Linked DNA regions of Homo sapiens. The protein of the gene in region 2 purifies or fractionates together with the protein of the main gene of each other region. This does not show direct contact. Each region holds a gene or a part of one and is shown on either strand. Other genes may lie near its edges. The genes, in order: LZTR1 and PTPN9.

Region 1 (7,867 bases), on a different chromosome or scaffold from region 2:
GAAGTCCCGAGATGTGTTTGGCCTGGACTTTGGCACCACCTCAGCCAAGCAGCCCACCCAGCCTGCCTCGGAGGTACAGGCTGGGATCCTCATTAAGACTCCATCACCCCCTGAAACAGGTCCTGTGATCAACACCTCTCACACATGGGGAGACTGAGGCCCCGAGAAATACTTGCTTGGGGTCACACCACAAAGGGGGTACAGGGCCAAGGGCCCTCACCCTGCTGGCCAGGCTGCAGCTTTCTGGGGTGGGTGCCACACACTGGCCCAAGTGCCCTGACCACTCTGAGGGTCTCCATGGCCCGTCATGCCCCACTCGCCTACATGGGTACCAGGTCCCACCTGTGTCTGTACCCAGGGGCCCTCATCCCTTGGGGACCCTGCCCCCTGGCCCTTCATGGCCATGAGGTGCCGCATCCTTGCCTTACCTGGCTGCACCAGCCGCACTGTGGAGGCTCTGCTCCCCCACCATTCCACCCTGCCTTCTTGTCCCCCAGCTGCCCAGTGGGAGGCTCTTCCACGCGGCTGCTGTCATCTCGGACGCCATGTACATCTTCGGGGGCACGGTGGACAACAACATCCGCAGCGGGGAGATGTACAGGTTCCAGGTGTGGGGCCTGTGGGCCTGTAGAGCCGGCTGGGTGGACGGATCCCCCGTGATGAGAAACTGAGGCCAAGTTGGGGGGCAGGGCTTATCCAGGCCATTGCCAGGGCCACACCTGGCAGGATGGAAGCCTTGGGAGGAGCCCTGTGGGCTGAGGGTGGGCTGAGGTGGCACTAAAGTGGGCAGCCTTCGTGCAGTGGGGCAGGCAGATGGTGCTGGGGCTCACGGCAGAGTCAGTGGAGGGAGCCGGGCCAAGCTGGGCTCAGCACCAGAGCCTCACAGGCATCATAGCCTGGCCCAGGGCAGAGCCAGGGCCGACAGTGGCTTGCGTTGACAGCCCCTTCCCAGGCCTGGAGGAGCAGGTGGTCAGGGCAGGGACTCACAGCCACAGTGAGGTCAGGGCCAGCTTCCTGGAGGAGGTTGGGATGTGCTGGTGGGGGCCAGTGTGAGGACGCAGGTCCAGGCAGAGTGGAGACGGCAGAGCTCTGCTGAGGCCTGGGGCCCAGCCGAAGGCAAGAGAGGCAGGGGAGCCCTTTCCTGCTGTGGAGCCGGCCGTGGACAGTTGCAGGTGCTGAGGCTGGAGCCAGGCTGTATTTTCAGGGTGGGGTAGCGGCTGCTTCCTCTCCTCAGCCAGGCCCACCTGCCTCCTGGGCCCTGAGGGTCAGCATGGGCCAGGTGGGGACCTCAGGGTCGGCCTGCACAGCCACACTGGGGCCACCCTGCTGTCTGCAACATCTAGTCTCACTGGGCCCCTCTTGCAGTTCTCCTGTTACCCTAAATGCACGCTGCACGAGGACTACGGGCGGCTGTGGGAGAGCCGCCAGTTCTGCGACGTGGAGTTCGTGCTGGGTGAGGTGGGTGCCTGTCCTCGCACCCTGCTCTGCCTGCTGTGCCTGGGCAGTGGGAATTTCGCCCCTCAGAAAAACAGCTGCTGGCCTGGTGGTGCTGACCTTGGCTGGCTGGGTCTCTGTTCTCTGGGGCGAGGGTCCTGTGCCCTCTGCCAGTGCATCATTCTTTGTGCAGAAGGAGGAGTGCGTGCAGGGCCACGTAGCCATTGTCACAGCGCGGAGCCGCTGGCTTCGCAGGAAGATCACGCAGGCGCGGGAGAGGCTGGCCCAGGTGAGGTGCCTAACCGCCCTGCCCTGACCTGGCAGCCATGCCTGGTGTCCACTGGGGTGTCCTTGAGCTCCCTTCTCCCCACAGAAGCTGGAGCAGGAGGCCGCCCCAGTTCCCAGGGAGGCCCCCGGCGTGGCTGCTGGTGGGGCCCGGCCGCCCCTGCTGCACGTGGCCATCCGGGAGGCCGAGGCCCGGCCCTTCGAGGTGCTCATGCAGTTCCTCTACACCGACAAGATCAAATACCCACGGAAAGGTCCGCCTGGGTGGGGGTGGAGCAGGGTTGGTGTGGGCTGGGGTGCGGGCAGCAGAGCCAAAAGGTGGGTGCTGCCAGCCCTGCCTTACTGATGGGCCCCCTGAGGCTCAGAGGCTGCAGGTCACCCTCCTTACCCATGATCACTGCAGCTGGACGCCATCTGAGTCCCCCGAGGCCTTGTTCCTACCTAGTGGCCCCAGCCCACACTCTTCCATGGGGGGAGCCCTGCGCCCTGTGCCCTGCCCTCCCCTCTCCGGCTCCCTGAGATTCGGGGGCTCTGGGGCGCAGGCCATGTGGAGGATGTGCTGCTCATCATGGATGTGTACAAACTGGCACTGAGCTTCCAGTTGTGCCGCCTGGAGCAGCTGTGCCGCCAGTACATCGAGGCCTCCGTGGACCTGCAGAACGTGCTGGTTGTGTGCGAGAGTGCCGCCCGGCTGCAGCTGAGCCAACTCAAGGTGTGGGGTGGGGTCAGCGCAATCAGGGTTGGGTGGGGTGTGCTCAGGCTTAGGCCCCCTCCCTGCCCACCACTGTGAGCCCCTCGCCCAGCCTGGGGCCCTGGCTTGACTCTGCCTGCCTGCCTGTGCCTGTCTGCCCCAGGAGCACTGCCTGAACTTCGTGGTAAAGGAGTCCCACTTCAACCAGGTGATCATGATGAAGGAGTTCGAGCGCCTCTCCTCTCCACTGATAGTGGAGATTGTGCGGCGGAAGCAGCAGCCGCCCCCTCGCACTCCCTTGGACCAGCCAGTGGACATTGGTAGGGAGCCCCGTTCCCCTTCCCTGGGGGCTGGGAGGGATGGTGTTCATCTGCGGTAGGAGATTGGGAGCCATGGAGAGCACCTGCCAGGCCCTCGGGGTGGGGGTGGGTGCCATGGGACCCCAGAGTGCTCTCCTGGGTACAGGGAGGAAACAGATGAAGGCAGAAGCCCCCGACCCATGGGGCTTGCCACAGTGGGCTGTGTCCTGGTGACCTGGGATTTCCTGAGCCAATTTCTGGGGGTGGACATGGGGCACCTCTTTCGGGCTAGGATGTCAGGTCTGATGGCCCAGGGTCACGGTGATCAGTCTCTGGACTTCTCTTTGCTTGTAATGTCACAGGCCCCTTCATTCCCCCAGCTCTCCCTGGGGCTTGTGCTGACCCCGGTTGCTGGCTCTTGGTGATGTCTGCAGGCACCAGAGGCCATGCAGTGGGCCTGGAGGGGGCTTGATCATGAGGTCAGCGAGGGGGTACAGCAAGCTGGGTGGAAGATGAGACGCTGGGTGGTGGGCTGTGCGTGGGGCATAGTGCTTGAGTCGGCCAGGGCGCCGAGGGAGGACAGAATGTGGCTGATGGTACCTCAGGGCGAGTGAGGCCTTCTGCCTGGGTGAAGTTTTGTTCAGGGCAGCAACATGGGCAGATATGCAGGAAGGTAGTGCCGTGGGGCCCCAAGGCCAGAATCCCAGGCTGTACCTGCTCAGGGACCCTCCTACCCCCAGGCACATCTCTGATCCAGGACATGAAGGCATACCTGGAGGGAGCGGGCGCGGAATTCTGTGACATCACTCTGTTGCTTGACGGGCACCCACGGCCAGCCCACAAGGCTATCCTGGCCGCCCGCTCCAGGTGGGTGGGGGCTGGACAGGAGGGGAGGGTGGGCCTGGATGGTGTCTTCGTTCTGCTGACGGCCAGGTGCCTACCGCTCGTTGTCTGCAGCTACTTTGAAGCCATGTTCCGGTCCTTCATGCCCGAAGATGGGCAGGTGAACATCTCCATCGGGGAGATGGTGCCCAGCAGGCAGGCCTTCGAGTCCATGCTGCGCTACATCTACTACGGCGAGGTCAACATGCCGCCCGAGGACTCGCTGCATCCTCACTCCCCAGTGAACTCCCAGGTCCCCACCAAGGGGTCCTGGCACCCACCTCAGGTGGCTTTGAGGCCCGCTCTCCTGCCCCAGCTAGGTGATCTGGGCCCAGCGCCTCCCTCCAGAGGGTTTGCTGGTGCCTGGGGCTGGGCCTGGTGCTCTCTGAAGCAGTTGGCAGCTGGCAAGGAGGGGTTTGCAGCCAGGAGGAACCAGTGGGTTCCTGACCCTCACAACTGCCCAGAGGACGGGGTGGGTCATTGCTTTGTGTGACAGTTGAGCACAGACATGGAGGTACTCCTTATGTCACTTCAGTAGGGGTCTGAACATGGAGGGTCAGGATGCCTGTTAGGCCTGCAAGGCCATGGAACAGCGCTACAGATGTACAGACACTATTTTTCTCGGGAGGGGATTCATGGTTTTCTTTGGATCCTGAATGGGGCCTTTGACCCACTAAGTAGTTCAGAATCCATTTGGAGAGCATGCTGGCGTGGGGGCTTGGGGCTCCAGCTGCGCCCTTCCCTGTCCTTCCCTGGGAGGGTGCGGGCGGACCAGCTTCCTTTAGTCAGCTCCTTAACCAGGCCCCAGCTACTTGTTTGCGGCCCCCTACTACTACGGCTTCTACAACAACCGGCTGCAGGCGTACTGCAAGCAGAACCTGGAGATGAACGTGACGGTGCAGAACGTGCTGCAGGTAGCCCCCCAGCCCCGTGCACATGGCTGCAGCTCCCACTGAGTGGGTGAAAGGGGCAGCGCCTCAAGGTCCCTGCCATTGCAGATCCTGGAGGCAGCTGACAAAACGCAGGCACTGGACATGAAGCGGCACTGCCTGCACATCATTGTGCACCAGTTCACCAAGGTCAGGGCTCTGGCCTCCCCTTCAGGACTCGCTTCCCCTTGGCAGTGGCCATGCCCAGGCAGGGAGGGTGCCCAGGCTCTGTGGTCCCCTGCAGTGGTGGGCCCTGGGGGTGAGAGAAGCAGAGCAGCCCATCACTGGCCGCACCTTGCTTCATCCTTGGGACCAGCCTGAGCCCTGAGCAGGGTAGGCCCCACAGGGCTCCACTGCCCACCATGGCCCTTAGGTGGATCTGGTCCCATCTCCTTCCGGCCTGCTTGCCTTACAGGTCTCCAAGTTGCCCACCCTGCGGTCGCTGAGCCAGCAGCTGCTGCTGGACATCATAGACTCCCTGGCCTCCCACATCTCAGACAAGCAGTGCGCAGAGCTGGGCGCCGACATCTGAGGCCCTGTGGCGCCTGCCCATTGTGAAGAATCGCCGTGCCTGCCTGCCCTGCCTACTGAGAAGACTACCGGCTATGCGCATGCCTATGGCAGTGGGTGCACCTGCCAGGCCAAGGGTCAGGGTGCCCAGAGCCTCCAAAGAGAGCTGAGGGGATGTGGGGCCCCAAACTCATTAATTCACTGAAGACACAGGTCCCACAGGGAGCGGATGATGAAGCAGACCCCCTCCTGTCATCACCCTCTCCTGGTGTAGTGTGGATGCGAGGCCACGGCTCAGTGATGGGCTCACCACCCAGAAGTGGGGAGAGACTTTGGGCCTCCCACCCAGTGGGGCTTGGCCTGGCTTCTGTGGCCTGGGCGTGTTGTGGACTCAGGCACTGGGGCCTGTCACCAAGGCTCCTCCAACATGCGGGAGGAGGCTTAGCAGACTTGCGCTGCACCAGCGAATCTGCCTGGGCTGCTCCTGTCCCACCCACCCTCACTGAGATCCATGTAAGGGGCTCCTCTTCCCACCTGGAACTTGTGAGTGGGGACCCATGATGTATGGGTCTCACCTGACTTGAGGTGAATTTTGGAGTGAAGGGCCCTGAGGTCAGCTCCCAGGTCGGTCGTGCTGGGCCAGGCCTGGTTTTCACAGGGGCTGAAGGATCCCAGTCCACCTGTGTGCATGTCAGGGCTCGGCCGGGAAGAAGCCAGCAAAGTCCCCCGTGTCCCTTGCTGAGTATTCTGTCACAGACAAGCCTCCATTAAAGCCACAGCAGTGCTACCCACCACACACACCTTGCTGGCCCGGCCACCACTGCTGGCTTCAGCCCCTTGAGCAGCCCATGGCTTAGCAGACCCCCAGATGTAGGTCAGTGGCCTTACCTGTCTCTATCCATGCTGTCAACTCCTGCCTCCACCTGGGGTCACCCAGTCACATTGGGAAGGGCTGTGAAGGCCTCCAGGCTGGCCCCTTCCAGGGGAATCCTGGAGGCCTGGGGTGGGCTCCTGCCCCTTCTGCCCTGCCTTGCCCCTGCACTATGCTCTTGGCTCCTGTGGAAGGAGGGCTGCCCTCTTGCCCTAGTGAGGGCCCCATGTGGATCCACTCTAGTGCTGGGAGCCAGCGCTCCCTTACTGGGAACAGGATTCCAGGACCCCTTTCTTGTTGTGGCTGCCATGAAGCCACAGCTCCTTGGGGAAGTGACCTGCTCTCCTTTGGGTGTATGCAGGTGTGTGGGGGGCCCTGAGTGGCAAGTTGCTTAGCTAACAGGAGATCCATAGGCAGCCTGCAGGCTAGGAAGTGGCCTAGTGCAAGATGAGCTGGGAACAAGGGAGGAGAGAGCAGGAGCTGGGGCAGAGGCTGAGCCGGGAGGCCCTTGAGGTGAGGACACAGCAGGCCCAGGACCATGGCTGGGGAGGATATGTCAGCACCTGGAAGTGGAGTGCAGGCTGCAGCGCCCAGCCATGTGGGCCAGGTGCATTCACTCAGAGTGGGGCCACACACCCATCTACCCAGTTTCCACAAGATGTGGCTCCTGCCACACCCACAGGGCAGCCTCCTCCAAATCCCTCCTGGAGGGGCCTACCCAGAAGCCTCCTTGAACCAGTCTGCAACCCTGCTCTATGCTGACCCTTGTCACTGAACCCTGATCTAGACTTATATGAATAAATGAAATTACATGCCAAGGGCCCTAAAAAGCAAATTTTACGAAATTGTGTGGCAGTTTCTGGGACTAGAATGAATTTCATTTGTGCTCCTCGGCAGGGAGAGGCCATACTTGCAGTGAGTCACCCCAAGACGGAGCTGTTTGAGAACTGCAGCTGCAGCAAGGCCTTCCAGGTTCCTGGGAGTTGAAGGAAAAGGATGCTGAGGCCAGGACCTGAGTGCTTGTCTCCATGTTCTGGCCACCTCTTCCTAGATTTCCAGGGACTAGCTTGTTGGGGCTTTACTACCTGCTGACATGACCCAGGAGGTTGATGATTGTCATCATCATCCCCGTTTTTCAAATAGAGATGGTAGTGAAGGGGGCGGGGAGAGGGTTGTCCAGCTTACCCACCAGGCTGATGGGGCCTGTGGACAGAAGCCTGTCATGCTCCTGCTTGAGAACCGGATCTAGACTGGGTTTTAGAAGTGTTCTCAAAGGGGCTGGCTGGTTTAAGTCAGGGCTGTTTCAGATCCTATGGAAAGGGCGCCTGGAGCTGTCTTCCTGGCCCCTACTCACACCATCCTGCCCCTTCAGAGAACCCTGTGGGGCACGGAGCTGCGCTAGCAGGGCTGACTGCCACCTGTCTACCAGTAGCTCTGAGGGGTGAGAGCCAGGCTCCCTGTTCTCCTTGGCAAAGAGCTTGGACTGAGCCCTCTAGGAGCTGCAGCCACTGTCTGGGGCAGCAAGCTTAGTACTCAGAGGGGCTCCAGCCCCCAGCTGAGCCAGACAGCAGGCCCTCCGTCTAGAATCCGCTTTATTATGGCACCTGGTGGGTCTGGTGGGATCTGAGGGAGGAAGAGGCTGCAGTCTTGCTGGGCAGCCCCTCGGTCAGTCCAGCAGCCCCTCAGGCCATGCTGCTGCTCAGCTGCATGGCAAAGTCCTGCACATGCTCCTTCAGAGTCTGGCGGGCATCTGCCTGTGCCCGCTTCTCCCGTGCCCGCTCCTGCTGCAGCTTGGTCAGTCTCAACCGCAGCCGCTGCTCCCGCCGCTTGCAGGCCTGCAGCTGGCGCTGGGCCTTGTCAAGGGCATCAAGGGCTGCCTCGGCTCGCCGCTTCCAGAGTAAGGCGCTGCCCACCTGGTAGCTGTGTTCATTCTGGATGTAGGCTCCGGCGGGTGGGGGCAGGCGCA
Region 2 (7,867 bases):
AACCCCAGAGAGACTATGATCCACAAAGGTCCAAGATGCTGTTAAAATGTGTGGCACAGGACAGGTCCAGTGACTCACACCTGTAATCTCAGCACTTTGGGAGACTGAGATGTGAAGACTGCTTGAGGCCAGAAGTTCGAGACCAGCCTGGTCAACAGAGTGAAACTCCGCCTCTACAAAAAAATTTTAAAATTGGACGGGTTTATTAGTACGTGCCTGTGGTCCCAGCTCCTTGGGAGACAGAGGCAGGAGGATCATTTGAGCCCAGGAGTTGAGGCTGCTGTGAGTTATGATGATGCAACTGCACTTCAGCCCGAGCAAAAGTGAGACCCTGTCTCTTAAATAAAAAGAAACAAAGAAAATGTGTGGCACAATTATTGAATAGGCTATCCAGATCTAGATACTTTCTATTTCTCCATGAGCTCCTCAAGGGTCAAATTCAAATTATGGGCTTTCCCCTCATGACTCCAGGTTGTGGCAGGGGACTAAAACAAAAACAAGTCAGTGAGGGGGCAAAGAGAATTTAAAAAAAAAGAAGCTTGGATGCATAATGAATGATCCAGGTTCTATATTCCCAGATCAAAGTGCTCATCCTGTGAAGGCACATAAAACATGAATGCAGTAAGATTTTCACACTTTAGGGTATAGAATAGATAGATAGATAGATAGATAGATAGATAGATAGATAGATAGATGTGTGTGTGTTTATATATGTGTGTATATATATACATATACTTTTTTTTTTTTGAGACAGAGTTCGCTTTTGTTGCCCAGGCTGAAGTGCAATAGTGCGATCTCTGCTCACTGCAACCTCCGCCCAAGTTCAAGTGATTCTCCTGCCTCAGCCTCTCGAGTAGCTAGGATTACAGGCACCCACCACCACGCCTGGCTAATTTTTTGTATTTTTACTAGAGACGGGGTTTCACCATGTTGGCCAGGCTGGTCTCAAACTCCCGACCTCAGGAGATCCACCCCCTTGGACTCCCAAAGTGCTGGGACTACACGCGTGAGCCACCAGAATATATATATTTTTAAGACAGCATTTTACTCTGTTGCCCATGCTGTAGTGCAGTGGCACAATCATGGCGCACTGTAGCCTCGACCTCCCAGGGCTCAGATGATCCTCCCAGGGCTCAGGTGATCCTCCCAGGGCTCAGGTGATCCTCCCAGTTCAGCCTTCCGTGAGTGTCTGGGACTACAGGCAAATACCACCATGCCTGGCTGCCTAATTTTTAAACTTTTTGTAGAGACGAGGCCTTGCTATGTTGCCCAGGCTGGTCTCGAACTTCTGGGCTCAAGCGATCCTCTCACCTGGCCTCCCAAAGTGTTGGGATTACAGGCATGAGCCACTGCACCCAGTTTAAGATTTACAATGGGCCGGGCACGGTGGCTCACGCCTGTAATCCCAACACTTTGGGAGGCTGAGGTGGGTGGATCACGAGCTCAGGTGATCGAGACCATCCTGGCTAACAAGGTGAAACCCCATCTCTACTAAAAATACAAAAAAAAAAAAAAAAAACGGGCGTGGTGGCAGGCGCCTGTAGTCCCAGCTACTCGGGAGGCTGAGGCAGGAGAATGGCACGAACCCGGGAGTCGGAGCTTGCAGCGAGCTGAGATAGCGCCACTGCACTCCAGCCTGGGGGACAGACCGAGACTCCGTCTCAAAGGAAAAAAAAAATAAAAAAAATATTTTTTTAATTCTTGAGCTACATGTTACAGAAAACACCAAGAAGTTTAAAATACAGTCCCTGACATTGGTTTTAAAAAAACGGAGAAGCCAGATGCAATGGCTTATGCTTGTAATCCCAGCATTTTGGGAGGCCGAGATGGGAGGATTGCTTAAGTCCAGGAGTTCAAGACTGCAGTGAGCTACAATCATGCTACTGCACTCCAGCCTGGGTGACAAACCAAGCCCTAGTCTCAAAAAACAAAAAAGAAAGAAACTGAGGATAGGAGATCCATGAGGGGCTACCAATGAAACAAGACTGTTACAGATCACTTTGAAGAAGACGGATGATGGATATGTGGATGTTCACGATACCATTCTCTCTCAACCTACAGAGATTCGGATGTTAAAAAGAAAGTTTCCTGCCCTCAAGAAGCGAGTGGATTCATCATGTTGCCCAGGGCTGGTCTCAAACTCCCGGGCTCAGACAATCTGCCCATCTCAGCCAACCAAAGTGCTAGGATTACAGGCATGAATCAATGCGCCTGGCCTCAATATAGCACTTCTAATCCGGAGGACCAGCCAAAGATGTCGAGAGCAGTAAGAAACTGTAAATTACAAGCACCAGGGAAAAAGGAATAGCAGAACAACAGCATGGGAGGACAGAAATAACTCTGCCCAAGAGTGAAGAAACCAGGATCTTAGAACCAGCTGGACTAACATATGATGACTGTAAAAAACTTCTTGGGGCTTGAGTTTAATTGTCAATTGAATTGTAACAATACCAATTACCTTAGCAGGAAGAGAGTGATGACCTGAGCTGGTTCTTTATGCTTATGCACCTCTTTTTATTAAGGATGGTTTTTGCTTAACTTTATACTTCTGGGCTTCTCCCTGAATGTTTTTTTGTTGTTGTTGTTTGTTTTGTGTGGGCTTTTTTGTGGGGTTTTTTTTGAGACAGGTCTTGCTGTGTCACCCAGGCTGGAATGCAGTGGCGTGATCATGGCTCACTACAGCTTCACCATTCTGGGCTCAAGTGATCCTCCCACCTCAGCAACCTCCCCCACCTCCCCCAAGAAGCTGGGACTAAAGGTGCACGCTACCACACCCAGCTAATTTTTTGTATTTTTTATCAGAGACAGGGTTTCACCATGTTGTCCAGGCTGGTCTCAACTCCTGGCTTCAAGCAATCCACCTGCTTCAGCCTCCCAAAGTGCTGGGATTACAGGTGTGAGCCACTGCACCCAGCCCTCCCCTGAATGTTGAGTCTCAAAATCCTCTGAACTAAACGGCATTATTCCTGTTATGCAGACAAAGAAACTGAGGCCTTAGAGGTTCTGATATGAGCAAAAAGAACCAGCACAGGTCATCTCCCCCTCATTCTTTTCCAATAAGTAGTTTTCCATACACTGAAGATTGCCGATAATTGACTTTCTCAGCTTCTGTTTTCCTGACATAGAGCCAAGGTGGTAAAGAGAACGCCCACCATCTTGATAGTGCCTGCAAACATGCCGAGTTCTAAAGGACATGGATTGTTTTCTATTCATAGCATTGCCCAGGGCACATCCTAGGAGAATGGCGAAGGCACTGCTGAATTTAATCAAGTAAAAAACTGTCACTTTCCTACCTGCATGTAGAATACCTAAAAAATAATCTCAATGCTTACCTATCCACAGCTCTGTCTAGCAAGTAAAACAGAGCCTGAAGTACCACATGTTGGACTGACTTGTGGGGATGATGCAACCTGGCAGTAAAGAGGGCAATGGAGGCTCCTGTTGGGTCCCGAACATTCTAAAGCAAATAAAACAAGAAACATTAAAAAAATCAAATAGAAAATCACAGCAATTACTAAGACTTATATACTGGATAAGGGTTTGATACATGTAGAAAACAGATGCTAACAATAATTCCCTGACTTCACCAATTGCTGTCCAAAGGGAAGAGTGTTAATATCATCCTTTGTCTGATTCTCCCAGGACTCCCTGGACCATATTTCTGTGGTAAGAAAAAAAAAACACATTCTCTTTGCTCTTCAACTACAGACAGATCAAAGGATGGCTGTGCACTGGCTTCCTAGCTAACTTCCCTGGCAGAATGGCAAAAGAAACAAGCAGCAGGAGAGAACCAGGGAACAGGACCATGATTTCCACCCTCTGCCTTAAAAGTGCCATTGTATGTTTACTTGAAAGGCTGAGGTCTCAACTAAGTGGAGAGCTTGCGTTAAATATGGAAGCATGGGTGTCTGACACATTGCATATCTCTCCCAAAGACCATGACTAACCTTAATGGACCAACTGAAGAAACTTTTCTAAGTCTACTGTACAACTGATTTTCCATAATTCAATTATTCAATTATCATTAGTAACTCTAATTACTAGAAACTATTAGTAATTCAATTGTTACTAAAATAATTTTATACCAAACTGCATGGCTGTTTCACATCTGCTCCTAACTGTGGAGACTCTCTAGATTCAGGATAAGGTATATAGGAACAAAGTCCAAACAGGGGGGGATGGAGGAGGGATAGCATTAAGAGATATACCTAATGCTAAATGACGAGTTAATGGGTGCAGCACACCAACAAGGCACATGTATACATATGTAACAAACCTGCACGTTGTGCACATGTACCCTAAAACTTAAAGTATAATAATAATAAAATTAAAAAAAAAAAAAAAAAAACAAAGTCCAAACAGGACACCAGTTAAAAAAGGAAGTAATAAGGCCCTACAAGATAGGTCCCTAAACACTCACTAAGATGGTGAATTTTCCACTGAGGATCTCAGAACGAAGAGGTTCCTCATGAGGTTTCAGCTTTACAATGCCTTCCTTCCTTCGAGTTTCCTAAAAAGGAAGCACAGCAAAATGTATTAATATGAAAATACTGTATATCCAGGACAGCACCATGTAACCACCAAATCTCAGAGATAAGGTGGTTATCAATGAATGAATGAATTATAAATTTCATAACTAAATAAATTTTGTAACTAATTTCATAACCAATTCTACTTCATTTAGTTGAATTAGAATTCAATTAAATGGGCCGGGCGCAGTGGCCCACGCCTGTAATCCCACCACTTTGAGAGGCCAAGGCGGGCAGGTCACCTGAGGTCAGGAGTTCGAGAGCAGCCTGGCCAACATGGTGAAACCTTGTCTCGGCTAAAAATACAAAAATTAGCCTGGCATGGTGGTGCGCGCCCATAATCCCAGCTACTCAGGAGGCTGAGGCAGGAGAATCGCTTGAACCCAGAAGGTGGAGGTTGCAGTAAGCCAAGACAGCACCACTGCACTCCAGCCTGGGTGACAAAATGAGACTCTGTCTCAAAAAAAAAAAAAAAAAAAAAAAAGAATTCAGCTAAATGAATAATGAAGTCAACTAAATGAATTATGAATTTCTTTGTAACCTGCCTCCAAGCCAGTCAAGCATTTTCGGAATTCCTGTCCAAAGCTACTTTATCAGCCCCTCAGGTAGGGTATTTTTCTCTGACTCAGTAAGAACCCTAACCCTGAAGAGTAACCAGTATGTTACATTCAGGTGCAGGATCAAGGTTCTTAAACACGCAGCAGCACTGACATGGTACCAGGACACTAAAATATGGACCTCAAAAATGTCTGGATGCCTACGTTCTCACATATTTTCTAGGTTTAGGCCTCTCCTATGTTTAAATAGGAGCCTTCTCTCCACCTGATATTGTCTCCAACAGCAGCTACCATGACTTCATTTTCCTCACCCTGATGGCCAGATTCTTTTTTTTTTTTTAATTGAGACCAAGTCTCACACTGTTGCTGAGGCTGGAGTGCAGTGGCATGATCTTGGCTCACTGCAACCTCCACGTCCAAGAGATTCTCTTGCCTCAGCCTCCTGAGTAGCTGGGATTACAGGCACGTGCCACCATGCCTGGCTAATTTTTGTGTTTTTAGTAGAGACGGGGTTTTGCCATGTTGCCCAGGCTGGTCTCCAACTCCTGGGCTGAAGCGATCCACCCGCCTCGGCCTCCCAAAGTGCTGGGATTACAGGCATGAGCCACCGCGCCCAGCCTCTTCAGTTCTCCTCTTAAATGACAAGGTTGACCACCTACACTTCCTTTTTCCGGAGACATTCTCTACCTTTATATACCGATAACAAAAAAATATTATCTTGGTTTGTCTTATTTCATCAACCGCTTGTTTTAAACCTCTTAGGCTGGGCACGGTGGCTCATGCCTGTAATCCCAGTACTTTGGGAGGCCGAGGTGCGTGGATCACTTGAGCTCAGGAGTTCGAGACCAGCCTGGGCAACATAGCAAAACCCCGTCTCTACTAAAAATACAAAAAATTAGCCAGGTATGGTGGTGCATGCCTGTGGTCCCAGCTACTCGGGAGGCTAAGGTGAGGTGGGAGGATCACTTGAGCTCAGGAGGCAGAGATCTGCAGTGAGCTGAGATCATGCCACTTCACTTCAGTCTGGGAGACACAGCAAGACTCTGTCTCAAAAAAAAAAGTGCTTCCACAGAATCCAGTGCTGCCTTATCATAACATTTCTACAACTCTTTGTTTATTTTCTCTTTCTTTTTTTTTTTTTTAAACAGTCTCACTCTGTTGCCCAGACTGGAATGCAATGGTGTGATCTCGGCTCACTGCAACCTCCACCTCCTTGGTTCAAGTGATTGTCCCTCCTCAGCCTCCCGAGTAGCTGGGAATACAGGTGCCACTACACCCAGCTAATTTTTGTAGTTTTAGTAGAGATGCGGTTTTGCCATTTTGTTCAGGCTGGTCTCAAACTCCTGACCTCAAGTGATCCACCTGCCTTGGCCTCCCAAAGTGCTGAGATTACAGGCATGAGCCACCGCACCCAGCCCTAGTCTCTCTTTCTAAATAGTAATCTCTGCACCTGGAACACAGTAAGTATAAAATAAGTATCTGTTGAGTAAATGAATGAATATTGAATGAGCTGGTCCACAAGACAGATGTAACCAAACTTCAGTTAAGCTAATCCTAGTGCTTGTTATCCCAATTTTTTTTTTTAGGGAGATTTTGTATTTCTTTAGAAGGATTCTGACCCCAAAGTAACATGCTGTATAGTGTTTTATCAAAGACACTACTAACTGAGAAAGCAAACAAGCACAAAACCAAAGTCTATGCCCCCTCAAAAAACAAAAATCAAAACAAAGTAAAATCCTGATGCCGCTACATTTGCATAAAGATACTTTAAGATAATGGACCTAGCTAATACACAGTTGCTCTTCTTTTCCAGTGTTAAAACTTCCCTTCCTGAACTGCCCACTAAGCTCATCATTCATCTGAATGGCAAGTTTCTAAAAGCCTTAGACAACCTGAAAACCAAGATTTTCATGTGGCCAGAGGCCAATGAAAAGAGCTAGGATTAAAACTCTAGGAAGGGTGAACCCCTATCCTGCCACCAGGATGCTGTCAGGCTACTTCCTCCGTCTCAATCATTAGATGTGGCATCCTGGTCTACGATCAAAACTTAGGTACAAAAGTAGTGCCTTCCAGTAGCTGCCTTGCCCAGCTTCAGCTCTCACAAGGGCTCCTGGATATGGATCCATTTTTTATGAAAGTGAGGAGGAACACTTAGAGAACCAATGTGTGTGTCGAGCATGACAGGGACAACAGCAACACTTAACCCAACTGCCACAGGTCTGGTCTACCCCTGAGCCACATACTCTGTAGGAGTGGAACAATTCTATGGCACGGAGCACATCAAACTTCCTTGCCATGAGGAACTTGACAGCCACATTCCAAGACAGCGGGGAAACATTGTACTGAACTGTCCACTTGTTAATCTCTTCGAGAAACTGCTTGGTAGCCTGTTTGACAAAGAAAGAAAGAATAATTAGTAAGAAGAGAGCATATTTATGGAGTCAAAAAACAAACAAGTGAAAACTATCATCCCTTCTCCAAGCAAGTCTGAACCCAGTTTGCTACAGGGAGCAGGGAAAGACAAACAAAAAGGTAGAAACAGGTCTGAAACCAGACATAGTTAAAATTTGTATAATTCAATGAGGCCAGAAGCCAGATCTAGGTTCAGAAAACAGGACTTAGTGCAGGTATGCATGAAAAAATGAGGGGGGAGAAGAGGGATCCTAAATGAGATGCAAATTACTAGTCCCAAAGCAAAAAATAAAAAAATTTAAAAATTTTGGGAGGCCACACTTTGGGAGGTAGAGGTGGGAGGATCACTTGAGGTCAGGAGTTCAAGAC

The links.
Region 1: the proteins of PTPN9 (region 2) and LZTR1 purify together in Homo sapiens (affinity purification with mass spectrometry; 3 studies listed by BioGRID and IntAct, with this or other methods). This does not show direct contact.

Annotation. Positions count from the first base shown.
Region 1 is NC_000022.11:20,992,297-21,000,163, forward strand, and holds the end of LZTR1 (leucine-zipper-like transcriptional regulator 1), read left to right. Parts: coding exon 1-73; intron 74-497; coding exon 498-608; intron 609-1,365; coding exon 1,366-1,458; intron 1,459-1,627; coding exon 1,628-1,723; intron 1,724-1,807; coding exon 1,808-1,973; intron 1,974-2,261; coding exon 2,262-2,431; intron 2,432-2,573; coding exon 2,574-2,730; intron 2,731-3,449; coding exon 3,450-3,576; intron 3,577-3,666; coding exon 3,667-3,816; intron 3,817-4,399; coding exon 4,400-4,505; intron 4,506-4,589; coding exon 4,590-4,670; intron 4,671-4,935; coding exon 4,936-5,052; 3' UTR 5,053-6,736; downstream 6,737-7,867. Other genes in the region: THAP7 (THAP domain-containing protein 7), read right to left, coding at 7,584-7,867. UniProt on the Homo sapiens protein: Substrate-specific adapter of a BCR (BTB-CUL3-RBX1) E3 ubiquitin-protein ligase complex that mediates ubiquitination of Ras (K-Ras/KRAS, N-Ras/NRAS and H-Ras/HRAS).
Region 2 is NC_000015.10:75,519,789-75,527,655, forward strand, and holds part of PTPN9 (tyrosine-protein phosphatase non-receptor type 9), read right to left. Parts: intron 7,474-7,867; coding exon 7,330-7,473; intron 4,511-7,329; coding exon 4,421-4,510; intron 3,458-4,420; coding exon 3,333-3,457; intron 1-3,332. UniProt on the Homo sapiens protein: Protein-tyrosine phosphatase that could participate in the transfer of hydrophobic ligands or in functions of the Golgi apparatus.